Linked DNA regions of Homo sapiens. The protein of the gene in region 1 purifies or fractionates together with the protein of each later gene. This does not show direct contact. Each region holds a gene or a part of one and is shown in the gene's direction. Other genes may lie near its edges.

Region 1 (3,500 bases):
GGCCCCGCTGTGCGTTCTCCTGTTCTGAGGCTGGGCGGGGGGCGGGGGACGTTGGGAGGGTCCCTGGGGGCCCCGCTGTGCGTTCTCCTGTTCTGAGGCTGGGCGGGGGGCGGGGGACGTTGGGAGGGTCCCTGGGGGCCCCGCTGTGCGTTCTCCTGTTCTCAGGCTGGGAGGGGGACGTTGGGAGGGTCCCTGGGGGCCCCGCTGTGTGTTCTCCTGTTCTCAGGCTGGGCGGGGGGCGGGGGACGTTGGGAGGGTCCCTGGGGGCCCCGCTGTGCGTTCTCCTGTTCTGAGGCTGGGCGGGGGGGCGGGGGACGTTGGGAGGGTCCCTGGGGGCCCCGCTGTGTGTTCTCCTGTTCTCAGGCTGGGCGGGGGGCGGGGGACGTTGGGAGGGTCCCTGGGGGCCCCGCTGTGCGTTCTCCTGTTCTCAGGCTGGGAGGGGGACGTTGGGAGGGTCCCTGGGGGCCCCGCTGTGCGTTCTCCTGTTCTCAGGCTGGGAGGGGGACGCTGGGAGGGTCCCTGGGGGCCCCGCTGTCCAACCTGCCTCGCTCACTGGCCTTGTCTCTATCTTCCAGGCAGGGAAGTTCAGCATCATTCCCACCATCATCAACGTGGGCTCTGGGGTGGCGCTCATGGGTGCTGGGAGTACCTCCCCTCCCTCCCCGCGTCCCACCCTCTCCCCGGCGGCCGCACTGGCAGGGAGGGGGAGGCTGCTGTTCAGGAGGACCGTGTCCCAGTGCCCCCAGAAAGAACCAGAGCTGGCAAGATCAGAATAGGCGTGGGAAAAGAGGGCTTTCTGGGATTTCACGCTCTGCCAGCTGTCCTCAGGTAGCAGTGACAGCCCGAGTCTCTTTCCAGAGCCAGGGAGGCATGTGCTGGTAGCTCTGCAGCTGTGCATGGGTTTAGGTCAGTCCCCAGCCGAGGCGTGGCTGGGATATCCCTGGGATCCCAGGTGAGTCCCTGAACTTCTAAAGTCTCTATCTCTACTTCTGCTAAAAGAGGGCAGGATTAGGCCGGGCGCAGTGACTCACACCTGTAATCCCAGTGCTTTGGGAGGGTGAGGTGGCGGATCACCTGAGGTTGTGAGTTCGAGACCAGCCTGACCAACATGGAGAAACCCTGCCTCTACTAAAAATACAAAAATTAGCCAGGTGTGGTGGCACATGCTTGTAATCCCAGCTGCTCAGGAGGCTGAGGCAGGAGAATCGCTTGAACCCGGGAGGAGGAGGTTGCGGTGAGCCCAGATCACACAACTGCACCCCAGCCTGGACAACAAGAGCAAAACTCCATCTCCAAAAAAAAAAAAAAAAAAAAAAAAAAGGGGGCAGGATTAGGCTGCAGACAGTTTCTTAGCCTGGGTGCTGCTGACTTTTTGGGTGGGAGAATTCTGTGTTGTGGTCTTACACACATCCTTGGACATGCCCTTAAACATTCCACAATGCACAGAGGGCTGTGCTGGGTGTCGTAGGAGGTTTTTGTTTGTTTTCTATTTCATATTTCACACTTTTCTGGTCGATACTATATTTTCCCAGACCCTGAGGATGTTGATTTCAGAGACAGGGTTTTTGCTCTGTTGCCCAGGCTGGAGTGCAGTGGCATGATCATGGCTCACTGCAGTCTTGAACTCCTGGGCTCAAGCGATCCTCCCACCTCAGCCTCCCCACTAGCCAGGGCTGCAGGTGCACCACCACCTGTGGCTAATTTTTAAATTTTTTGTAGAAATGGGGTCTCACTATGTTGGCCAGGCTGATCTTGAACCCCTGGGCTCAGGCAATCCTCCGGCATTGGCCTCCCCAAGTGCTGGGATTATGGGCGTGAGCCACCGCGCCCAGCCCATTGTAGGATGTTTAAGAGCATTCCCGGTTTCTACCCACTAGATGTTAGGGGCACCCTCCCCTGCAGTTGTGATGGAGCAAAATCCCAGCTGGCTGAGAACCACCCGACTGAAAGGCTGAGAGGCAGGGAAGGCAGCCCTGTGACTCTTCCTTAGAGGTGGCCCTTCAGTGGGGCCGGGAGCGGCTCACAGGGGAGGAGACACAGGGACTGAGGGCAGGGAAAGGCGTCCTGAGTCTACACTGCCCCGTGGTCCTTCTGGAGTTTTTGAGAGCCATGGGAGTGGTCAGTGCCCATCCCGGCAGGTCCCTTTCCCAGGTTTCTGGCAGCCTCTTCCCTCATTCCTCTCCCTGTGCACACAAGACAGCCCCACTGGAGGAGTCCATTGGGACCCAGGGGTGACTTTTGTTAAAACCTGGAAAATTGTGTCCCATACCAGGACCACGTTCCTGGGAGGGGGTCAAGAAAAGTGAGCTCCACATGGATCCCTACCTGCAGACAGTCACTGGGAGGGTCCTGGATGTTTGCGCCTGTTACTTTCTTACAGAAGGCCCACCTTCAGCTATCACTTTTCTTTTTTTTTTTTTTTTTTTGAGACGGAGTCTCACTCTGTCGCCCAGGCTGGAGTGCAATGGCATGATCTTGGCTCACTGCAGCCTCTGCCTCCCAGGCTCAAGCAATTCTTCTGCCTCAGCCTCCTGAGTAGCTGGGATTACAGGCGTGCGCCACCGCGCCCGGTTAATTTTCGTATTTTTGTAGAGACAGGGTTTCACCATGTTGGCCAGGCTGGTCTCCAACTCCTGACCTCAGGTGATCCGCCCACCTCGGCCTCCCAGTGCTGGGATCACAGGCGTGAGCCACTGCGCCCAGCCCATTCATCACTTTCTTGTGATGTGGGTAAAATCAGAGCACCCTCTGGGGACAGACCTGTGAACTGGAAGTAATGGCGCAGGAAGAGGTGGTGGTCAAGGTTAGGTTTGGGGTTGGTCTCTGGGGAGCAGCGAATTGGTAAGCAACATTTTTGGCATCTAGGGGATGGATGTGCAGCACCCAGGGTCAGGGGACCAAGATTCCTTGTTGGCCCCTCCACCAACCCTTCCCACCTCCACTCTCCTCTATCATTCAGGCCCCAACCCTGCCCTGTGCTGTGGGTGGAGTCTCCCTCTGCTGGAGGAGAGGGGCAATTGCATCGCTCTGGTCCGTAGGGCACGTTTTGGGTGTGAGGGGCTGAGCTGGGGTCGTCCACCTCATCATCTTCCTTTTTTGTTTGTTTTTGCTTTTGTTTTTGTCTCTTTTGAGATGGAGTTTTGCTCTTGTTGCCCAGGCTGGAGTGCAGTGGTGCGATCTTGGCTCACTGCAACCTCCACCTCCCGAGTTCAGGCGATTTTCCTGCCTCAGCGTCCTGAGTAGCTGGGATTACAGACACCCGCCACCACGCCCAGCTAATTTTTGTATTTTTTAGTAGAGACAGGGTTTCACCATGTTGGCCAGGCTGGTCTCGAACTCCTGGCCTCAGGTGATCCGCCTGACTCGGCTTCCCAAAGTGCTGGGATTACAGGCGTGAGCCACTGCACCTGGCACCCATCATCTTTCTTTGACTAGCACCATAGCGTCCTTGTTGGTTAGAACCCTTCCAACCTATCTCACACTGACTACCACAGGGATCT
Region 2 (4,042 bases), 1.7 Mb from region 1:
AGGGCCTCTGGGGGAGCCCGAGGACACAGAGCTGACTTAAAGGGCCAGCTGTGATCACAGCACCACCGCAGAGAGAGGAGGAGGATGCCAGGGGGCTGGGTAGACCGTCAGACCTGGAAGACCATTGTTCCACGGGACAGACTGCTGAGGGCCAGTCCTGCAGGTACTTTGCTCTTCCACAGGTCAAAGCCGTCTCACTGGCTGTCTTCTCTTTGGGGTCTCTGGGGCTCTGGCCAGTGATCAGGAGAAAGACCAGCCCTGAGGGGCAGGGCAAAGGTTGGCCAGGGTCCAGAAGGGTTAGACATCACAGTCCTCCACTGCCCACCTTCCCAGGAAAGCACCCTCAGGCTGTGGGCCTTCCCCAGAGGGGCAGTTTCTACAGGGTCTACGCAGTGGATTCTAAAGGTGATAAAGGCTGGGTGCAGTGGCTCGCGCCTGTAATCCCAGCACTTTGGGAGGCCAAAGTGGGAGGATTGCTTGAGTCCAGAGGTTCAAGACCAGCCTGAGCAAAATAGTGAAACCTTATCTCTACTAAAAAAAAAAAAAAAAAAAAAAAAAAAAATTAGCTGAACGTACGCCTGTGGTCCCGGGTACTCAGGGGGCTGAGGCAGGAAGATGAATTGAGCCCAGAAGGTTGAGACTGCTGTGAACCATGATCGCACCACTGCACTCCAGCCTGGGCGACAGACCAAGACCCTGTCTCAAAAAAAATAATTTAAAAAGCTGATAAGGGCGATCCACAAACCTGCACCAAGACTCTCAACTTGGAGCTGGGCTGGTGGTCCCTGAGTTCTGTCCTGCCGGACAGTAGAGTCCCCCTAGGTAGGGAACGTGGCCCCACACGGCGGCCGGGTGACCGACCACTGCTTACCAGGAGGGGAGACTGGCAGGGGGGGCTCAAGGAACATCTGGTGGGTGTCCCCTTCACAAGACTCGGCCTGCAGAGTTCGTGCAGGGAGTTCGCACATAGGAGAGCACCGGTCCGGGAGTGCCAGGCTCGTGCCCGGCCGGGGAGAGGAGTGGGAGACTAAGTCGCAGGGCAAGGGCAACTGCATAGTCGGGGACCTCTAGGGAATCCTGAGTCCCGGCATTCTGGGCTGGGGTGGAGCCCACTACAGCCCCGCCCCTATCTCCTCCTTTATGGCCCCGCCCAGCGGGTATCCCCCGCCCCCGCTGGCCGATCGGCGATCGATCGCAATGTCTGCGCTCTCCGCGTTCTTCCAGCGCTGTCTTTTTAGTACCACATGCGCAGGCAGGTGATGGCGGCGCTGGTCGTATCCGGGGCAGCGGAGCAGGGCGGCCGAGACGGCCCTGGCAGAGGTGGGTGCTGGAACGCTGCGCCCTCCAGACCTCGCATCTCGGGGCGGGGCCCCCAAGTTAGGGACAGGACCAACCCCCTTTAACGGCGGCGGCGCCTTTCTCCGCTAGATCCCGCTGTTAGTCGCCTTGGGCCGCTGTCACCAGCTCGGGGTCGCTGTCAGCCGGAGCCCAGGGGTACCAGTCTTTTGCAGCTTTAGGGCACGACCGAGAGCAGCCCTTAATCCTCCAATCGGAAACTACAGCCTTGTCTTGGCGGGTAGACGGATAAAATGGACTCGACGGGGAGGGAAAGGGCCAGGCCAGATGCAGCGGGCATTTTACGAGTGCGCCCTCAGGGAATGCTTTCAGGGAAGAGGCAAAAGGTTTCATTCGCCAGGCATTAACTGAGCGCCCACCGAATGCCAGGCCTGCGCTGGGTGCAGGTACTAGAATCAGAGATCTCAGTCTACTGGGGGAATGTTAATGTAAACATATCATAGCCACGTGATAAAGGAGGAGGTGCCTACTGGTCCCTGGGACACATTGAAGGGCTAATGTTAGCAGTTCCTTACACGCCAGCGACCACTAGGGACCTGTCAGAGGAGGATCTGTAATGGGCCTAGGAAGCCTAGGCTGATTGTCCAAGGCTTTTGAAACAACTGGCCAAAAACCATAGCAGTGGTAACGTTCAAATCTGATCTCAGGGCCCCAGCCTCCGCTGGACCATCCCCACCGCCGCCCACACAGTGGGTGAAGCCTCATGTCTGGGCGGGTCCCTCCTATCATAGTGTGGGGCCCTAGCAGAAGTTGTGGCACATAGCACAGTCTCAATACATATTCGTTGAATAAGTTAATTTCTTGCCTTTTCATATCCTCAGACTCTGTGGCTCCTGAAGAGATAACGGGGTTGAACTAAGCTTAATTGTCGGGGCAGGGCATAGTGGCTTACACCTTTAGTCTGAGCACTTTGGGAGGCTAAGGAGGATTGTGTGAGCCCAGGAATTCCACACCAGTCTGGGAAACATAGGGGGACCCTGTATGCACAAAAAAATAAAAAATAGCCGTGCGTGGCCGGGCACGGTGGCTTACACCTGTAATCCCAGCACTCTGGGAGGCTGAGGCGGGCGGATTACCTGAGGTCAGGAGTTTGAGACCAGCCTGGCCAACATGGTGGAAACCCTGTCTCTACTAAAAATACAAAAATTAGCCGCGTGTGGTAGCACACGCCTGTAATCCCAGCTACTCGGGAGGCTGAGGCAGGAGAATTGCTTGAGTCCGAGAGGCTGAGGTTGCAGTGAGCCGAGATTGCACCACTGCACTCCAGCCTGGCCAACAGACAGAGTGAGACTCTGTCTCAAAAAAAAAAAAAAAAAAAAAAATTAGCCCTGCGTCTTGGCACATGCCTGTGGTCCTAGCTACTGGGGAGGCTGAGGTGGGAGGATTATCGTTTGAGCCCAGGACGTCGAGGCCGCAGTGGACCATGATTGCACCCCTGCACTCCAGCCTGGGTGATGGAGTGAGACCCTGCCTTAAAAAATAATAAGATGAATTGTTTATTCAGCTTATTATTTTTTATCCTACTTAGGAGTAGGATGAGACCAGAGTAAGAGTTGCAGTTTGCTAAGGGCTACGGTTTCCCCTTTACTCCAGGAGTTGTAATTATGTGTATACCTGTCTTTTCCCCCACTAGACTGCTGGTCTCTAAGGGACAAGGTCACTTTTCTGTCCTTACTGGTACGTCCACCACCCTGACTCAAGTGTTCTTTCCATCCTTCCTGGTTTAAGAGTAAGGAGGAGCAATGGGACAGCTAAGTCAGTTAAATGTATGATGTTTATTTCCCTTTTAAATGAGGAGAGGTAAGCGTGAAAGAACGAACAGTGTGGCCACAGTCAGTGGGGTTCTGAGTCAGGAGGGCAGTCTTTTAAGTTAGTATTCATGTTTAACGGTTTGCTTATAGACCTCATATCTAGAAGCTCAAAACTTCAAGGTGTCCTCAGGAGGTGGGAGAGGGGGGACATTCTCCCAGGCTGGCTGGGCTGGCTAGACTGACTCTTAGGTTTTCCGCAGGGCTGTTCTCTATCAGGGAGCAGTATATGGACTCAGACTCATTCTTTGCCCCTTAGCCCCTGGTGTCACCTCTGTTCTCCTGAGGAAGAAGGTGAGCCATATTCTATTCATGGGCTCAAGTCTTCGATTCCCAGTGATTTCACAACATGGAAATTATACCGGTTACCTTCTGGCTTAATGAATTGTCTCTACCTTCAGGATGAATTCAGTGAGAACGAAAGCTGGGCCAACCCCCTTGGTGTCTGGATCTGGCCCTTAAACTTGGTGGAGTTAACAGCTTAGCTGGGTCTTGTTACCAAACTCAACTTGGGTCTTCCCATCCACACAAAGCAAAAGCCAAACACTGACATGGAGATTTGCAGGGAGAGAACAAGCATTTATTGTAAGGCACCAAGCAGGGAGACTGGGCAGCTAAAGCTTAAGACCTAAACTTCCTGATGGCTTACAAGCAAAGGGTTTTTATTTTATTTATTTATTTATTTTTGAGATGGTGTCTCGCTCTGTTGCCCAGGCTGGAGTGCAGCGGCGTGATCTCGGCTCACTGCAAGCTCCGCCTCCCGGGTTCACCCCATTCTCCTGCCTTAGCTGGGACTACAGGTGCCTGCCACCAGGCCCGGCTAATTTTTTGTATTTTTAGTAGAGAGTAGTATTTCCCCGTGTTAGCCAGGATGGTCT
Region 3 (3,500 bases), on another chromosome or scaffold:
ATTGGGCCAATGATGGATGGGGCCTGAAGAAAGCTGCTGATGGGGCTGCTGAGGTTCGTGTTTGCTGCTTGTGCATTTGTGTCTGTTATTGTAAGGAGCTGTTATTTTGTGAAAGTCTGTGTTAAGGTTTTTTTTCTTCATTTGGCAATATTGGCATAAAAAGTATAACCATATGCCTGCAAAAGACACAATATTGGGTTTTGGGGCATGATTTCATTAGTCTAATGTAGTGGCTTTAGAGTCTGTTTGTGTTCAGGGTTTTTTTTTTATTATTTGTCTGGGTATATATTTCGAAATTTGTCATTTAGGCTATATTTTAATACACTCTTATATGTTGAATCTCGGTTTACACTACATACAGAATTTTCAAACAACTGGTCATGTGGCCGATTTAAGAATTGGAGAGCCAGGGATACTGAGATAAGAAATTCACTGGATCCTGAGGTTAAGGGAGCCTTTTGCAGGTGATGTAGAAGCCAGCTTTTGCACCTATGAGAGTGAAATCATCTTGATTATAAGGAGAGCAAGAGGATGGAGGCTTTCTCTAATTTCTTTTTTACATTTTATGAGCATTTTCTCTGAAAAAGAAGGTCCTGCGTAGTGCCATGCCATAACTGAACTGCAGAAAAACAGCACGGCCTATGTTTGGTGTCAAAAGCTGGAACTTTCAATCAGCCCTGTCTTGTTTTTCAGCCAGGCGTTGTGGGGCAGATGATCGAGGCAGCTGAAGAGCGCCCGTGGCTGTGGGTAGTCTATATTCTAACTGTAGCCCTTCCTGTGTTCCTGGTTATCCTCTTCTGCTGTTCTGGAAAGGTAGGAAGTTTTTTTTTTTAGAATCAATTTTAGAGACATCACTCTAGTGATTATTAAAAATAACTAAGATATGTTGCCTGAGGTTTTCTTTGTAGTGGCTCAGTAATGACCAAGCCATGTTTGGTGTTGACTTCAGAAACCTTACTTACTGTTCCTCAGTGGCCGTTTATTGTGCCCAGATGGGAGCAGGATTTATAGCCCCTTGGTTGCTATTATTATTTATCCTAATCTGTTACTCTCCATAGTGTTCGGCAGCAACTTTCTAAAAAAAAACAATAAACTTAGATACCAAACTAGCCACTTGGGCAATAATCAGCTTTGCCTGCTGGCATAGCTATTTCTATTCTTTGTAATTCAGTCTTTGATTCCTCATTATCCATTCTGCCTTCACCTTCCCCACTCTCAAAACAGTATGTTGGGGTACCACAGCCTTATTGTTAGTTTTTCTTGTTTAGCCTTTTTTTTTTTGCATGCTATCATAAAAAAAGAAAGTCTTATTTTGGACTCTACTTCTGCTAAATGAGGATTATGCTTCATCTGGCATTCATAGCACTTTGTAACTGGATCCCAAGTTCCTTTTCCAGCCTCAGCCTCTGCCACTATTCTGTGTATCGGTGCCTCAGTCACCTTGACTTTTTTGACCTTTATTTTCCTGCCTGGCCCTTTTGTTTTTATTGTTCTACCTTGAAACACACAAGCACATGTGCATACACACACGTACATACACGCTCTTCAGGGTAGGAATTACATCCTATTCGTTTCTGTATATCTATCCCTGTATACAGCCTGGAACAGAACTTTGCCTGTAGGCATTCAGGAATTATATAACATAATACATGAACATGTAAACAAAATTGTACTTTGGGGAACATTTCAGAAACAGACCAGTGGTATGGAGTATAAGAAAACTGATGCACCTCAACCGGATGTGAAGGAAGAGGAAGAAGAGAAGGAAGAGGAAAAGGACAAGGGAGATGAGGAGGAGGAAGGAGAAGAGAAACTTGGTAAGAAACAGAGTCCAGAAAATCTGCTTTAAGCCAAGACCCTACGATGTTGTTAAACCTTTACAGTCAAGTTAAGGATTGTTTTTAGCCAGGCGTGGTGGCTCAAGCCTGTAATCCTAGCACTTTGGGAGGTTGAAGCAGGAAAATCACTTGAGCCCAGGAGTTTAAGGCTGTAGTCAGCCAGGATAGTGCCACTGCACTCCAGCTGAGCAACAGAGTGAGACCCTGTCTCTCTCTCTCTCTCTTTTTTATTTTTTAAGACAAGGTCCCACTCTGTCACTCAGGTTGGAGTACAGTGGCACAGTCACAGTTCACTGCAGCCTTGACCTTATAGGTTCAAGTGATCCTCCTACCTCAGCACCCCTCCAAGTAGCTGGGACCACAGGCATGCGCTACCATGCTCAGCTGTTTGTTTGTTTGTTTGTTTATTGATTTATTTATTTGATATGGTCTGGCCCTGTTGCCCAGGCTGGAGTGCAGTGGTGTGATCTCGGTTCACTGCAGCCTTTGCCTCCCAGATTCAAGCGATTCTCCCACCTGGGCCTCCCAAAGTGTTGGGATTACAGGCGTGAGCCACCAGACCCAGCGAGATCCTGTCTCTTAAAAAAAAATTGTTGGCCAGGTGCGGTGGCTCACGCCTGTAATTCCAGCACTTTGGGGGGCCGAAGCAGGCAGATCACGAGGTCAGGAGGTCGAGACCATCCTGGCTAACATGGTGAAACCCCATCTCTACTAAAAATACAAAAATTAGCCGGGCATGGTGGCAGGTGCCTGTAGTCCCAGCTACTCAGGAGGCTGAGGCAGGAGAATGGCGTGAACCTGGGAAGGCAGAGCTTACAGTGAGCCGAGATTGGGCCACTGCACTCCAGCCTGGGTGACAGAGCAAGACTCTGTCTCAAAAAAAAAAAAAAAAAAAAAATTGTTGGCCAGGCATGGTGGCTCACGCCTGTAATCCCAGCACTTTGGGAGGCCGAGGTGGGTGGATCACGAGGTCAAGAGATCAAGACCATCCTGGCCAACACAGTGAAGCCCCGTCTCTACTTAAAATAAAAAAGTTAGCCAGGCATGGTGGCGGGCGCCTGTAGTCCCACCTATTCGGGAGGCTGAAGCAGGAGAATCACTTGAACCCGGAAGGCAGAGGTTGCAGTGAGCCGAGATTGCGCCACTGCACTCCAGCCTGGCGACAGAGCGAGACTGAGTCTCAAAAAAAAAAAAAAATTGTTGGCCGAGCAAGGTGGCTCACGCCTATAATCCCAGCACTTTGGGAGGCCAAGGTGGGTGGATCACCTGAGGTCAGGAGTTCGAGATCAGCCTCGCCAACATGGTGAAACCCCGTTTCACTAAAAATACAAAAATTAGCCAGGCGTGGTGGTGGGCACCTGTAATCCCGGCTACTCCGGAGGCTGAGGTAGGAGATCCACTTGAACCTGGAGGCAGAGGTTGCAGTGAGCCGAGATCATGCCATTGCACTCCAACCTGGGTGACAAGCAAAGTCGATCTCAAAAAAAATAGTGGCCGGGCGCGATGGCTCACGCCTGTAATCCCAGCACTTTGGGAGGCCACCGAGGAGATCATGAGGTCAGGAGATCGAGACCATCCTGGCTAACACGGTGAAACCCCGTCTCTACTAAAAATAAAAAAAGTTAGCCGGGCATGGTGGCAGGCGCCTGTAGTCCCAGCTAT
Region 4 (3,500 bases), on another chromosome or scaffold:
ATTTGGGGGAGGACACAATTCAGCCCATAACAATAGCAAAGTTAAATAATTTAATTAAGGTCTCATAGCTGGTATGATGGATGAATGGAATTCAGACCCAGGTGTCTTTCAGTCTAAAGGTTATTCTCAGAATGCTACACTACAACCCTTTGACTCCTAGAGATGTACCCCAAAACTAGTTAGAGCTGTTTCCCCAAAGACTAAGAGATGTAGAGAAAACAATTTTACTATCTAGTTATGTGAAAGCTATAATTTTAATTTAATTTTTTGAGACAAGGTCTCCATCTATCGCCCAGGCTGAACTGCAGTGACGCGTTCATAATTTGAGAATAACACCAAGAAGAGAAAATGTAGAAACTGAAAACGCTGAACTCTAATGACACTGCTTTTTGGCTAAGTAGACTATAGTTGGCATTTGAATTTAAGAAGATAAAGAACAGTACATATAAGTAGAAAATAGGAAAAAAAGATGTCAGAGGAGGAACAAATGCTTAGCGGGTTACTACAGGAGGGTGCTAAAAGAATAATAATTGATATTTTATTAAGTAGGCATAGCAATAAGTCATAAGTGTCTTGAAATATAGTATCTGTTATTGTTTTATGAATGCAATTAATATAATAGTTTTGATAACACTGAATGCATATAAACATCACAAATTTCCAGATACATATATGAGCTTCAGATACAGAACTTCGAAATAAAGCTTTATGTATAGGTTAGTCACTCTTCCAACAAAATTATTGAGCACTTCATACATAGCAGGCTCTGTGCTAGGTCCTGTCAAAGGAGGGACTCTTAAGACCTTTGAGAGTTTCTGAGTTTAGTACTGAAACATAGCCAATCCGTGGAAGAAGTTCTATTTCTTGTAGTCCTTCACGTCAGTAATATAACTCACAATATGTGCATTTACCACCAAATTTCTTTAGCCATGTGAAAATAAGTTTAAAATGAATAATTATTATCTTGTCGTATTAAATTACCTATTATGTGAAACCTATAACTTTATTTATTTATTTATTTATTTATTTATTTATTTATTGAGATAAGATCTCGCTTTATTGCCCAAACTGAACTGCAGTAGCACATTCATAGCTCACTGCAACCTCAAACTTCTGGGCTCAAGTGATGCTCCTGCCTCAGCCTCCCAAGCAGCTGGGACTACAGGTGCGAGCCACTACACCCAGTTAATTTTTAAATTTTTTCATAGAGATGGGATCTCGCTATGTTGCCAGGACTGGTTTTGAACTTCTGGCCTCAAGTGATCCTCCTGCCTCAGCCTCCCAAAGTGCTGGGATTATAGGCGTATACCACCATGTCCAGCTGAAACCTCTATAACTTTAAAGAATGGAGTTTTATGATGAAACTAAGTGATTGTTTGCATTATAATTTTATCATAACTATTTTTTTTAAATTGAGAGGATTTTTACCGTAGTTTTATTCTGAAATGAAGTCAGTAACTTCGTTCAAGTGCCATAGTGTTATTATGGTTTATGTGTATGCTTTTTGTTTTTTCCTCCTTGTGGATAGAATGTGCTCTTTAAATCTTTTTTTTTTTTAGTTGTATTTTATAGCTATATTTGGAGCTGTGTAATGTAATGCACATCCTGCCTGAGATAACATCTTTTCTCTGTATTCTCTTTTTTTGCATAGGTAAAAATAAGTGACTAAAGAAGCAGACCTGGGAATCACCTAACATGTCGAGGAGGAGATTTGATTGCCGAAGTATTTCAGGCCTACTAACTACAACTCCTCAAATTCCAATAAAAATGGAAAACTTTAATAATTTCTATATACTTACATCTAAAGAGCTAGGGAGGTAAGAAAACCATATGACGTGTATGCCATCTAAATTCAAATTTTGGATTTGTGTTTTTATAATTCTATAAAACTCACTTGGGATCATTATTTAACAATGATTAGGAAGGAAAGTTGTGATCTCTGTTGCTGTTACCTAGGGTCCAGTCTTAACTGACTTGAAAATCAAATCTGTGGAGGGTTTAGTGAACTTAAATCATACATCCTACCTAGCCTCAGAGCCTCTGATAGGAGGTCTCTGTCGTTACATGAGGCTGTGCATGGGAAGAGGCAGCTCAGCATAGTGGACTGCCGAGTTCAAGTTTGGACTCCACCAGTTACTAGGTGTGTGACTTCAACTAAATAACTGTACCTCTTTTTTTAATTTTTGTTTGTGGCGGGGTCTCACTCTGTTGCTCAAGCTGGAGTGCAGTGACATGATCTTGGCTCACTGCAACCTCCTGTCTCCTGGGCTCAAGGGATCTGCCACCTCAGCCTCCTAAGTAGCTGGGACTACAGGCACACACCACCACACTGGGCTGGTTTTTTGTAGAGACAGGGTTTCTCCATGTTGCCCAGGCTGGTCTCCAACTCCTGGGTTCAAGCAATCCTCTGGCCGTGGCCTCCCAAAGTGCTGAGATAATTGGTGTGAGCCCCTGCGCCCTGCCTACTGTACCTCTTAGTGCTGTCGTTTCCTCATCTGAAAAGTAGGGGTGAAGATAATTGTGTCTGTCTTATATGGTTGTTATGAGGATTAAGTTAGTTAATATTTGTAAAGTGCCTAGTACAGTGCTCTGTAAGTTTTTGTTAAATGAAATATTTTTTTAAATTCCTAGGGTATTGTGCTTGGCTTAAAAAAAAAAAAAAAAGAAGAAGAAGAAGAAATAGGGAGATTCTCCCCCTCTCCTAAGTTGAACAAAAAGAATGAATTCATATTTCATAGTCTGATTCTATGTCACAACAAATGAGTGGTTTATAAGTAAAAAGCCTTTACAAATTGTTTTCTCTTAACCAGTGTATAAACTCTGTACGGCCAAGGAGTGACATGATATTATGAAACCATTCTGTACTACCATTTTAATATATGAAAAGTTATAAAAGATATACCAAGTTATTTAAGTTATATATTCAGCATCTTTTGAGCTTTAAATTAAAGGTGCTTAATGAAGGGTTGGAAGATGGTAGTCATCATGTATTTTCAGTTTGATTTTAGTTCTGGAGGTAAATGTTTTGTTGTATGTTAAATGGTTTACTAAGTCCATATTTGTGTTGATAAATGTGCAGCAAAACAATGTGATTGATTTTTGTCTTTGAAAATCTCGATGTGAGAAGAAAAGTTGACTGAATCATGAAAAGTAATTTCATTCTTGGTGGCCTTTTACCTTAAGGGCAGAGGCAAGTCCTGGCTTTTTCACGTTGCAGATGTTGGATGCAGCCTTTCTTTTGCAAAATAAGAATTATAATATCTGGCCAGGTGTGGTGACTCACGCCTGTAATCCCAGCATTTTGGGAGGCCGAGGAGGGTGGGTCACGAGGTCAGGAGTTCGAGACCACCCTTGCCAACATAGTGAAACCCTGTGTCTACTAAAAATACAAAATTAGCCAGGCATGGTGGCGTGTGCCTGTAGTCCCAGCTACTCAGGAGGCTGAGGCAGAAGAATCACTTGAACCCGGCAGGTGGAGGTTGCAGTGAGCCGATATCATG
Region 5 (3,500 bases), on another chromosome or scaffold:
GGAAACAAGACTGTGAGAGCCACACATTGGCTATCCTTAGGTGAATCTAGGAAGTGTGTGCTTATATAAAGATGTAGATGCCGAGGCTCAGGATGGAATTTGGGGATCCCTGTGTCTCATTCATGATGGAGATGGGGTGGAGGATGAAAACCAAATCCTCTGGGTGTTCCAGGCAGGTGGATCACTTGAGCTCAGGAGTTTGAGACCAGCCTGGGAAACATGGCAAAACCCCGTCTTTACAAAAAAATACACACACACACACACAAATTAGCCGGGTGTAATGATGCATGCCTATAGTCTCAGCTACTCAGGAGGCTGAGGTGGGAGGATCGCTTGAGCCTGGGAGGTGGAGGTTACAGTGAGTTGTGATCGTGCCACTGCACTCCAGCCTGGACGACAGAGCCAGACCCTGTCTCAAAAAATAAAAATAAATAAAAATAAATAAATATTAAAAAAAAAAGAAAGAAGATGCAGACCTGAACTAAGGCAGGTACAGTGTGGGTTGTGAACAGGGGTGGACTGTCAAGATGTTTAAGTGTAGAACTGTGAAACTGTCTGGATGTGAGGTGGAGAGGGAGGGCTTAGGTTAGCTAGATGGTGGAAGCAGTGCCTTCCCCTGAATTGGGGAAACACCAGAAAAGAACCAGTTTGCAGAGCAGTGTGTTGAATGTTTGGTCCCAGAGGGAGTGGCCAGCAGGCAGTCAGACATACAGGCTTGGAGCTCTGGGAGGCCAAGTGAGGAGTTACACACTAAGGACTCATTGCTGAAGGGGGGTGTCAGTGGTGTGGGTCAGAGAATTGTGACTATGTGTACAGTGAGAAGAGCAGAGAACCTGAAATGGTGCCAGGGAGACCACTGACTTTAGGATCAGGGAAGAGCCAGGGAGGGAGAATGGGAAGGAGTGGCCAGAGAGTTTGGAGGCAACCCAGGAGGGTGGTAATAGCTGCAGAAGTTTGATGCACAGCGCACACTGAGGAAGGAGGATGCTTTCAGGATGAAAATGGCTTTTATAGCTCGTAGATTGACAGCACTGGTCTCCTGCCTCCAGACTGGGCAGGGACAGTCATCAATGCCCAGGCAGAAGTGGGCAAGTGGGCAAGGTCTTCATGTGCCCCTCTCTGGGGTCAGGGCTGACGACCTCCCTCCCTGTGCCTTCCTCTGATTCCCCTCTCTCCCTGTGTCTCCCCATCTCTCCAGTCACCTCACTGCCCTGTCCCTGTCCTTTCCCCTAGCTTGGATCAGGGAGGAGGGCCGCTGCTCCAGCAGTGACGATGACACCGACGTGGACATGGAGGGTCTGCGGAGACGGCGGGGCCGGGAGGCCGGCCCACCTCAGCCCATGGTGCCCCTGGCTGTGGAGAACCAGGCTGGGGGTGAGGGTGCAGGCGGGGAGCTGGGCATCTCCCTCAACATGTGCCTCCTTGGGGCCCTGGTTCTGCTTGGCCTGGGGGTCCTCCTCTTCTCAGGTGAGTGGTACCTCTGAGGCTGGGGCTTTGGGCTTCCATGCCTGCCTGCCTTCCTGCCATGTTCTCACCTTACCTCACATCACCCCTCCCCGAGGGCCTCATCAGACTCCTCTGTCTCTGTCCTTAGGTGGCCTCTCAGAGTCTGAGACTGGTGAGTAGGGAGGAGCCTGTCTTGTGCTGGGGAGTTGTATGTGTTCTCTGGTTCTGTGGGTCAGGAGTAGGGGTGCTGGGGGCTCACATTTATTTCTCAGTTAGTGGCCTTGTCAGCTGTTCAGGGTGCCCCTTGGCCCTTTATCTCACCAAACCGCTCAGCCACAGGGTGGGTCCTGAGCAGGAGTGGTGGCTGTGTGAATGGGAAGGTGTGGGGAGAATGGGCTCTGTGTGCCTCAGGACCAGTTTCAGGGTTTCCCTTTCCCACAGGGCCCATGGAGGAAGTGGAGCGGCAGGTCCTCCCAGACCCCGAGGTGCTGGAAGCTGTGGGGGACAGGCAGGTATGTGTGAATGTCTCCAGAGGCAGGTGGGGCCTGGCTGGGGAGAACCTGGGCTGTGGGGTAGCATGGCATAACAGGCTCTTCTGCCCTCAGGATGGGCTAAGGGAACAGCTGCAGGCCCCAGTGCCTCCTGACAGTGTCCCCAGCCTGCAAAACATGGGTCTTCTGCTGGACAAGCTGGCCAAGGAGAACCAGGACATCCGGCTGCTGCAGGCCCAGCTGCAGGTGGGCACAGGCAGGAGGGGCTGGGCTAGGGTAACCCACCTAGGCCAGGCGTCTGTCCTAGCATCCTCCCCCAAAAGGAATGTTTCCTATTTACCCACACATCCTGACCCTCCCCTCTCCCACTATAGTCAGGGCGTCTTCCCAGTTCTTGGTTCACATCCCTTGTGCTAAGGTTTGGGCCAGGGCTGGCATACCTGTTCCACATGGTACATGAAACATACATGGTATCACCTGTGATTGATTGGTGTGGTCTGCCTGGAGCACTGTGTGGAAAAGGATTTAAAGAACATGCCAGGTGCCATGATCAGTTAACACTGTTCCAGGAAATAAGACTGTGAGAGCCACACATTGGCTATCCTTAGGTGAATCTAGGAAGTGTGTGCTTATATAAAGATGTAGATGCCGAGGCTCAGGATGGAATTTGGGGATCCCTGTGTCTCATTCATGATGGAGATGGGGTGGAGGATGAAAACCAAATCCTCTGGGTGTTCCAGGCTGTAAAACGGGCTCAGGCCACCTGCCCACTATAATAGAATGGAATTGGGGTAGAAGGCATTGGGGCTATCCTGACAAGAACTCTTTGTGACTTCCTTTGTCCCAAACCATATTCTAGGCCCAAAAGGAAGAGCTTCAGAGCCTGATGCACCAGCCCAAAGGGCTAGAGGAGGAGAATGCCCAGCTCCGGGGGGCTCTGCAGCAGGGCGAAGCCTTCCAGCGGGCTCTGGAGTCAGAGCTGCAGCAGCTGCGGGCCCGGCTCCAGGGGCTGGAGGCCGACTGTGTCCGGGGCCCAGATGGGGTGTGCCTCAGTGGGGGTAGAGGCCCACAGGGTGACAAGGCCATCAGGGAGCAAGGCCCCAGGGAGCAGGAGCCAGAACTCAGCTTCCTGAAGCAGAAGGAACAGCTGGAGGCTGAGGCACAGGCATTAAGGCAAGAGTTAGAGAGGCAGCGACGGCTGCTGGGGTCTGTACAGCAGGATCTGGAGAGGAGCTTGCAGGATGCCAGCCGCGGGGACCCAGCTCATGCTGGCTTGGCTGAGCTGGGCCACAGATTGGCCCAGAAACTGCAGGGCCTGGAGAACTGGGGCCAGGACCCTGGGGTCTCTGCCAATGCCTCAAAGGCCTGGCACCAGAAGTCCCACTTCCAGAATTCTAGGGAGTGGAGTGGAAAGGAAAAGTGGTGGGATGGGCAGAGAGACCGGAAGGCTGAGCACTGGAAACATAAGAAGGAAGAATCTGGCCGGGAAAGGAAGAAGAACTGGGGAGGTCAGGAGGACAGGGAGCCAGCAGGAAGGTGGAAGGAGGGCAGGCCAAGGGTGGA
Region 6 (3,500 bases), on another chromosome or scaffold:
CCACTTTAATCACACCCAGGCCTCCCTCCAAGAGCAAAGGGGACCGGGGACATGGCCATCTCCCCTGGTGAGCTGCTGCTCTGCACCTAGGTCCTGGCCTGTGCTGTGGGTGGTGACCGTGGGGTGGCTGGTGACCGTGGGGAGGCTGAAGTGCTCTCTAAGGGAGCTCTTCCTGGCTTGGCCCCCAGGCTTGCTGGACGGGACGGCAGACGATGCCACGACGGTGGACACACTCCTGGCCTCCAAGTCGTCCTGCGCCGGCCTCCTGTGCCGCACCCTGGCTCACCTGGAGGAGCTGCAGCCGCTGGTAGGTGCGGCCCGGTCCTCATGCAGCCCAGCAGCATCCACGCTGGCGGTGGGACCGCAACGTAGGCTGACGCCCCCCACCCCTTGCTGCCCCAGCACCCTTGCATCCACGCCAGCAGTGGGACCACAACCTTGGCTGATGTCCCCCGCCCCACATGCCTCGAAGTCCCAGCACCCCTGCATCCACGCCGGCAGTGGGACCGCAACCTTGGCTGACGGCCCTCTTCCTCGCAGCCCCAGCGCCCTTCACCGTGGCCCCAGGCGTCTCTACTGGGGGCTACAGTGACTGTCCTGCGGCTCTGTGACGGCTCGGCTGCCCCTGCCTCCAGTGTGGGGGGCCACCTCTGTGGGACCCTGGCGGGCTGCGTCCGGGTCCAGCGAGCAGCCCTCGACTTCCTGGGGACGCTGTCACAGGGGACAGGTGAGTGTGTTCTGTACGGCTTTGGCGTGGGGCTATCCCTGTGCCCCCACTCTCCTTTCTGCTCGGAGGCACCCGGGAACTGCTGTCCCTCTCTGTTTCTTCTCTGGGGTGGGGGCTGAGGGGTGCAGGGGCCGTGCAGGAGGTTTCAGCTGGCGGATGAGGCCTTGTTCTGCTCCTTCCCAGAGTTGATGGGGAGGGTCCTAGGGTGGGGGTGGGGGTGGTTTATCCACTCACCTCTGTCTCAGGCCCCCAGGAGCTGGTGACGCAGGCGCTTGCTGTCCTCCTGGAGTGCCTCGAGAGCCCCGGCTCCAGCCCCACGGTACGGTGGTGGGGATAGAGAGCGAGGAGAGGAGGGAGGCAGAGGCAGTGGGACCCACCCCTGACTCCACCCCGTCCCGTGCAGGCCTCTGCGGATGGGGCCTTCACACAGGGCCACAGAGCTGCTGCTCAGAGAGCTTCACGATGCAGGTGGCTGCATGGGGCGGGCCCAGGGCCTCTTGTTGGTGAAGATACATCAGCACGCAGGGGTGTGTGGGGCCGTGGGGAGCAGGGGCACTGGTCAGGCGGCCTGCGGGGAATTCTGGACAAGGGAAATGAGGTGGCACCAAGACGGCCCTGGGCGTGGGCTTTGGGTTCTCCTAAGCGCCATTTGTGAATGTGCCTACTCCACAGCCCCTCACGGAGCTGGGCCCTGGCAGGTACAGACCTTGTGCCACCTGCCGCTGAGCAGACAGCAGACAACTTTGGAGGAAGGGCCCAGGGCTTCTTGGGATCCTAAGGAAAAGGTGCCCTGCGTAATTGGTCATGTTTTGATGTAGAAATCCCGTTGCCTGGGTTGTGGGTCTTCTGGTGAGGGCTGCCACCACCTCCTCCTGCTCACAGTCTGGGAAGCCGGTTCTGCAGCATATTCTGCCCTATTAAAATCAGCCCAGGAGGGGCGTGGGGCTCACAGCTGTGATTACTGTGCGTTGGGGGGCCGAGGTGGGGGGATCAATGGAGCCCAGGACTTTTGAGGCCAGCCTGGGCAACATAGCAAGATCCCATCTCTACAAAAAAATAGAAAAATTAGCCCCAGGAGTATAGCTCAGGGGTAGAGCATTTGACTGCAAAAATTAGCCAGGCGTGGTGATGTGTGCCTCTAGCCCCAGCTACTCATGAGGCTGAGGCAGGAGGACTGTTTGAGCCTGGGAGGTGGAGGCTGCAGTGAACTGTGATTGCAGTCCAGCCTGGATGACACATTGAGACCCTGTCTCTAAAAAAGAAGGAAGCCCAGCGTTCCCTTCTCTCTCCACTTCCTGTCCCCATTGCTGTCCCTGGAGTACGGGCAGCACAGGTGAAGGCGAGGGGGACAGACAGACAGCCTGCCCCTCCGTCTCCCGTGGCCCTGCAGCCCACCCTATCTGCTCCAGGTTCTGAAGAAGGCCTTCCAGGCCACGCTCAGGTGGCTCCTGAGCTCACCCAAGACCCCCGGCTGCTCTGATCTCGGCCCCCTCATCCCGCAGTTCCTCAGAGGTAACGCAGCCCCTTGCAGGGGTGAACGGAGCTGGAGTCGCAGGGGTGGAGGCAGCAGGGGCTGGGTGGAATGGCTCAGCTGGCTCTGAGGGCAGGGTGAGCCTGGCCCCAAGGTCACCCTGACCTGTCCCTTCCCACCCTAGAGCTGTTCCCTGTGCTGCAGAAACGCCTGTGCCACCCCTGCTGGGAGGTGAGGGACTCCGCCCTCGAGTTCCTGACCCAGCTGAGCAGGCACTGGGGAGGTGAGTGCTGGCAGGTGGAGGGGCTGCCTTCCCCGCCTGTGGGGGGCTCACTGAGCCAGGGTGCACCAGCAGCCTCTTGCTGGCTCTAGAAACTTGGGCCATGTCGGCTGCCCACAAGGGGATGGAGGCAGAGGCCGAGGCGACAAGGCTCGGCCCTCAGTCACAGCTGCATGTGGCCGTTTCGACCCCCAGGACAGGCTGACTTCAGATGCGCACTCTTGGCTTCAGAGGTGCCTCAGCTGGCCCTGCAGCTCCTCCAGGACCCTGAGAGTTATGTCCGAGCGAGTGCAGTGACCGCCATGGGGCAGCTGTCCAGCCAGGGCCTGCACGCCCCCACCAGCCCTGAGCATGCAGAGGCCCGGCAGGTAGGAGGTGGCAGGTTCCTCAGCCAGCAACTCCCGCCTGGCCATCGTGTGTGCTCGTTTGCTTGCGGGTGGTCGAGCGGCCAGCATGCAGCGTGGGAGCAGCTGCTGCTGTGGGCAGCGCCTGCAGCAGTGACTGCCGAGGCCCTGGGGCTGTGCTGGGTGTGGGACCTGTGCGCTTCGCCTTCTGTCTCCCCAGCACCCCTCCACTTAGACATGGTTACCTCCATTTGACAGATGGGTAAACTGAGGATTGGAGGGCCGTGTGCTCACTGCGCAGCATGGGAAGGTGTCAGAGCGGGCTGTGGCCCTAGACTGCATGTCCGGGGCCAGCCCCCATCATGTACCGGAGTCCTGTTGCGGGAGCCTCGCTCCTGCCACCCCACCAACCATCCGCACTTGCTCCCTGTCCCCCAGAGCCTGTTCCTGGAGCTCCTGCACATCCTCTCCGTAGACTCGGAGGGCTTCCCACGGCGGGCGGTCATGCAAGTCTTCACTGAGTGGCTGCGGGACGGCCACGCCGACGCGGCCCAGGACACGGAGCAGTTCGTGGCCACTGTGCTGCAGGCGGCGAGCCGAGACCTGGACTGGGAGGTCCGCGCCCAGGGCCTGGAGCTGGCCCTCGTGTTCCTGGGCCAGACTTTGGGGCCGCCGCGT
Region 7 (3,500 bases), on another chromosome or scaffold:
TTTCATACTTGCAAATATTCAGGTACAGAAAGGGAGAGGAACTTTTTGACTCAATAAGGCTCTCTTTGTTTATTTATTTTTTGAGACAGAGTCTCACTCTGTTGCCCAGGCCGGAGTGCAGTGGCACCATCTTGGCTCACTGCAACCTCCGCCTCCTGGGTTCAAGCAATTCTCTTGCCTCAGCCTCCCAAGTAGCTGGGACTACAGGCACATGCCACCATGCCCGGCTAATTTTTGTATTTTTAGTAGAGATTGGGGTTTTGCCATGTTGGCCAGGTTTGTCTCAAACTCCTGGCCTTAAGTGATCTGGCCGCCTTGGCCTCCCAAAGTGCTGGGATTAGAGGTGTGAGCCACTGCACCTGGTCTATTTATTTAGTTTTTTGAGACAGGGTCTCACTCTGTTACCCAGGCTGTGGAGCGCAGAGGTGTGATTACTGCTCACTGCAGCCTTGCTCACCTGAGCCTGGGTTCAGGTGATCTTCCCACCTCAGCCTCTTGGACAGCTGGGACTACAGGCATGCACCACCATACCTGGCTAATGTTTTGTATTTTTTGTAGAGTCAGGGTCTTGCCATGTTGCCCAGGCTGGTCTCAAGCCCCTGGGCTCAAGCACTTCTCTCACCTCAGACTCCCAAAGTGCTAGGATTACAGACATGAGTCACTGTGCCTGGCCAAGGCTCTCTTTAAGTGGTCACTAAATGGCATTTGTAACCAAAAGTAATGTGTGTGGTGGTTTTTTTCTTTCCGGAAGATTTTGTCTACTGGAACAAAAGCGTGTTTTAACTGTAGTAATAACTATAGTGTTTTAACATCCATTTGAAATTGGTAAGGCATAGAATTTGTGTGGTTTGCTAAAAAACTACTTTCAAGAATATGTATTTGTGAAACTATTATCCTTATTCTTCTCTACCACCCCACCTAACTAATCCGAGAGTAATTGAGTATAGTTCGAATGACCTGGTGACAGTAGACGTGGTATAGAGGTATAATTTGAATATGCTTTAGCCTGTACTGTGAGTTAGCATCTTTTCTCTTTCTCTAATATTTGTATAAAACAGCCATTTTCTGAAGAATCTGTATTCATTGCTCTAAACTTCCACCAAAATTTTTGGAGATGTACAGCCATGGTTGTTTTATGTGATAGATAGATATCACTGATAACTTCAAAGTGTTCTGAAAGAGAGTATTTTGAGGCAGATCTTAAAGGAATCTTAGTAGCCTGTCCTGTATATTTAGTAGTTTCATTTGTCCACCCCTACTAACCAAAATTAGTAGAAGTTGTAGAGAGCTATTGAAGGAAAGACCATCTCTTCATAGGGCCAATTACTTAAGCGACTCAGTTATAAGTTTTTAATTTAAGTTGTAAGTAGGAGATAACTTTTACAGAGACAATCTTTGGGTTAGATATTACCTCAAAAGTTTTATAGTTCAGTATGGAAACTGAATAGGCATGCTTCAGCATGGGTGTATGCAGCTTTTTGATGGAAAGCATCAAAAGCACAAAGCAGATGAAGTAAAGTCATGCTTTGATAGACTAAGTTGGCATTGTCATGTTTGGTTTATCACATGTCCATAGGAATTTTCTTCTTAGATATCATATCAGAAAGGTCTTGGGTTGATATGGTTTGGCTATGTCCCCACCCACATCTCACCTTGTAATAATACCCCCCGATTTGTGGCAAGGTGGGGCCAGGTAGAGGTAATTGAATCATGATGGGGGGTTCCCTCATACTGTTCTTGTGGTAGTGAATAAGTCTCACAAGTTCTGATGGTTTTATAAATGTGAGTTCCCCTCCACAAGCTCTCTCTTGCCTGCCGCCATGTAAGACGTCGCTTTGCTCTTCCTTCGTCTTCCGCCATAATTGTGAAGCCTCCCCAGCTATGTGAAACTGAGTCAGTTAAACCCCTTTCCTTTATAAATTACCCAGGCTTGGGTATGTCTTTATTAGCAGTGTGAGAACACATTAATACATGGGTCATGGAATATCAGCTTCAAACTTCTTTGCTAGTACTTTTCCTTTTTGGAATTTATTGATTCTTTAGCCTGGTTATAAAACCTAGGGTTTTTGGCTTTTCTCTGGTCATTACTGATTTATCTTGAAAGTTTAGGCATTTTTTGTGTGTGCTTATGCTTGCACCTTCCAGTCAAAACATGCTTTTGAAAGGAAAGCCTTCTAGAAAATAGAAAATATTCCTATACAACTTCAGTAGATGAGTTCAGTCTAGGAATACTCTGTGCCTTGCACTGATAGAAACTGGGAGTATGTAAATAATGAAAACCAAAGATCTTTCTCCCAGAGAGTGTACCAATGTAGCTGTGTCATCCAGTGTAGTAGCCACCAGTCTAGTGTGACTATTTAAACTTAAAATTAAGTAAAAGTTAAAATCAGTTTCTTTTTTTTTTTTTTTTTTTTTTGAGACGGAGTCTCACTCTGTCACTCAGGCTGGAGTGCAGTGGTGCAATCTTGGCTCACTGCAACCTCCACCTCCCGGGTTCAAGCAATTCTGCCTCAGGCTCCCGAGTAACTGGGATTACAGGTGCATGCCACCATGCCTGGCTAATTTTTTGTATTGTTAGTGGAGATGGGGTTTCACTGTGTTAGCCAGAATGGTCTCAATCTCCTGATCTCGTGATCCACCCACCTCAGCCTCCCAGAGTGCTGGGATTACAGGCATGAGCCACTGCGCCCGGCCTAAAATCAGTTTCTTATTTGCACTTACCCACATTCCAAGTACTGTACGGTACAAATATAGAACATTTCATGTCTTTGAAGTATTGGAGTCTATGTTTGTGATTTTGTGACAGTATTTCTGTTGCCATGGTAGTCTGTTATGTGGTGGCATTTCTCCATATTTTGATTAGTTTCTTGTCTTGCCAGGCCTTGGGCCAAAGTTGATAGTTTGATTTAGGATGTAAAATTATCAGGGTACTACTATATTTTCTAATTACAATAGTTTTTCCAAAGTTTTTCAGATATTTCTTCAGCATTCTTTTACAGTGATTGATTGCACTGATGTTTATGGAGGAAATGGAAAGTAGGTTTTATAGATTTTTTTTTTTTTGTGGCAAAACATTCAAAACATAAATTTAGCATTTTAACGTTTTTTTTTTTTCTGAGACAGGGTCTTGTTCTGTTGCCCAGGTTGGAGTGCAGTGGTGCGATCATAGCTCACTGCAGCCTTAAACTCCCAGGCTCAAGCTATCTTGCCTCCTCAGCCTCCCAAGTAGCTGGGATTACAGGCATGAGCTACCGTGCCCAGTCATTTTAACCATTTTTAAGTGTGCAGTTCAGTGGTATTACATACATTGACATTGTTGTGCAACCATCACCATCATCCATCTTCAAAACTTTTTCATCTTGTAAAACTAAATCTATGCCCACTAAACAAAATAGGTGCCCATTTGCTCCCCGCCCCAATCCCTGGCAACCACCATTCTACTTTCTGTCTCTATGAATGTGACTATTCTTGGTACCTCATGTAAGTGGAATCATACAGTA

Evidence for each region.
Region 2: the proteins of P2RX5 (region 1) and DPH1 purify together in Homo sapiens (affinity purification with mass spectrometry; 2 studies listed by BioGRID and IntAct, with this or other methods). This does not show direct contact.
Region 3: the proteins of P2RX5 (region 1) and CANX purify together in Homo sapiens (affinity purification with mass spectrometry; 2 studies listed by BioGRID and IntAct, with this or other methods). This does not show direct contact.
Region 4: the proteins of P2RX5 (region 1) and STK17B purify together in Homo sapiens (affinity purification with mass spectrometry; 2 studies listed by BioGRID and IntAct, with this or other methods). This does not show direct contact.
Region 5: the proteins of P2RX5 (region 1) and PBXIP1 purify together in Homo sapiens (affinity purification with mass spectrometry; 2 studies listed by BioGRID and IntAct, with this or other methods). This does not show direct contact.
Region 6: the proteins of P2RX5 (region 1) and BRAT1 purify together in Homo sapiens (affinity purification with mass spectrometry; 2 studies listed by BioGRID and IntAct, with this or other methods). This does not show direct contact.
Region 7: the proteins of P2RX5 (region 1) and TNPO3 purify together in Homo sapiens (affinity purification with mass spectrometry; 2 studies listed by BioGRID and IntAct, with this or other methods). This does not show direct contact.

What each region holds. Positions count from the first base shown.
Region 1 is NC_000017.11:3,682,656-3,686,155, reverse strand, and holds part of P2RX5 (P2X purinoceptor 5), read left to right. Parts: intron 1-3,500.
Region 2 is NC_000017.11:2,028,911-2,032,952, forward strand, and holds the start of DPH1 (2-(3-amino-3-carboxypropyl)histidine synthase subunit 1), read left to right. Parts: upstream 1-1,242; 5' UTR 1,243-1,244; coding exon of another isoform or gene 1,245-1,259; coding exon 1,260-1,320; intron 1,321-4,042. UniProt on the Homo sapiens protein: Catalyzes the first step of diphthamide biosynthesis, a post-translational modification of histidine which occurs in elongation factor 2.
Region 3 is NC_000005.10:179,722,967-179,726,466, forward strand, and holds part of CANX (calnexin isoform d precursor), read left to right. Parts: coding exon 1-53; intron 54-693; coding exon 694-813; intron 814-1,690; coding exon 1,691-1,817; intron 1,818-3,500. UniProt on the Homo sapiens protein: Calcium-binding protein that interacts with newly synthesized monoglucosylated glycoproteins in the endoplasmic reticulum. It may act in assisting protein assembly and/or in the retention within the ER of unassembled protein subunits.
Region 4 is NC_000002.12:196,161,579-196,165,078, reverse strand, and holds part of STK17B (serine/threonine-protein kinase 17B), read left to right. Parts: intron 1-1,651; 5' UTR 1,652-1,695; coding exon 1,696-1,817; intron 1,818-3,500. UniProt on the Homo sapiens protein: Phosphorylates myosin light chains. Acts as a positive regulator of apoptosis.
Region 5 is NC_000001.11:154,946,100-154,949,599, reverse strand, and holds part of PBXIP1 (pre-B-cell leukemia transcription factor-interacting protein 1), read left to right. Parts: intron 1-1,233; coding exon 1,234-1,467; intron 1,468-1,594; coding exon 1,595-1,618; intron 1,619-1,887; coding exon 1,888-1,958; intron 1,959-2,051; coding exon 2,052-2,183; intron 2,184-2,796; coding exon 2,797-3,500. UniProt on the Homo sapiens protein: Regulator of pre-B-cell leukemia transcription factors (BPXs) function. Inhibits the binding of PBX1-HOX complex to DNA and blocks the transcriptional activity of E2A-PBX1.
Region 6 is NC_000007.14:2,538,525-2,542,024, reverse strand, and holds part of BRAT1 (integrator complex assembly factor BRAT1), read left to right. Parts: intron 1-188; coding exon 189-307; intron 308-540; coding exon 541-727; intron 728-972; coding exon 973-1,046; intron 1,047-1,130; coding exon of another isoform or gene 1,131-1,254; intron 1,255-2,117; coding exon of another isoform or gene 2,118-2,136; coding exon 2,137-2,239; intron 2,240-2,382; coding exon 2,383-2,481; intron 2,482-2,673; coding exon 2,674-2,846; intron 2,847-3,080; coding exon of another isoform or gene 3,081-3,260; coding exon 3,261-3,500. UniProt on the Homo sapiens protein: Component of a multiprotein complex required for the assembly of the RNA endonuclease module of the integrator complex.
Region 7 is NC_000007.14:129,045,112-129,048,611, reverse strand, and holds part of TNPO3 (transportin-3), read left to right. Parts: intron 1-3,500. UniProt on the Homo sapiens protein: Importin, which transports target proteins into the nucleus. Specifically mediates the nuclear import of splicing factor serine/arginine (SR) proteins, such as RBM4, SFRS1 and SFRS2, by recognizing phosphorylated SR domains.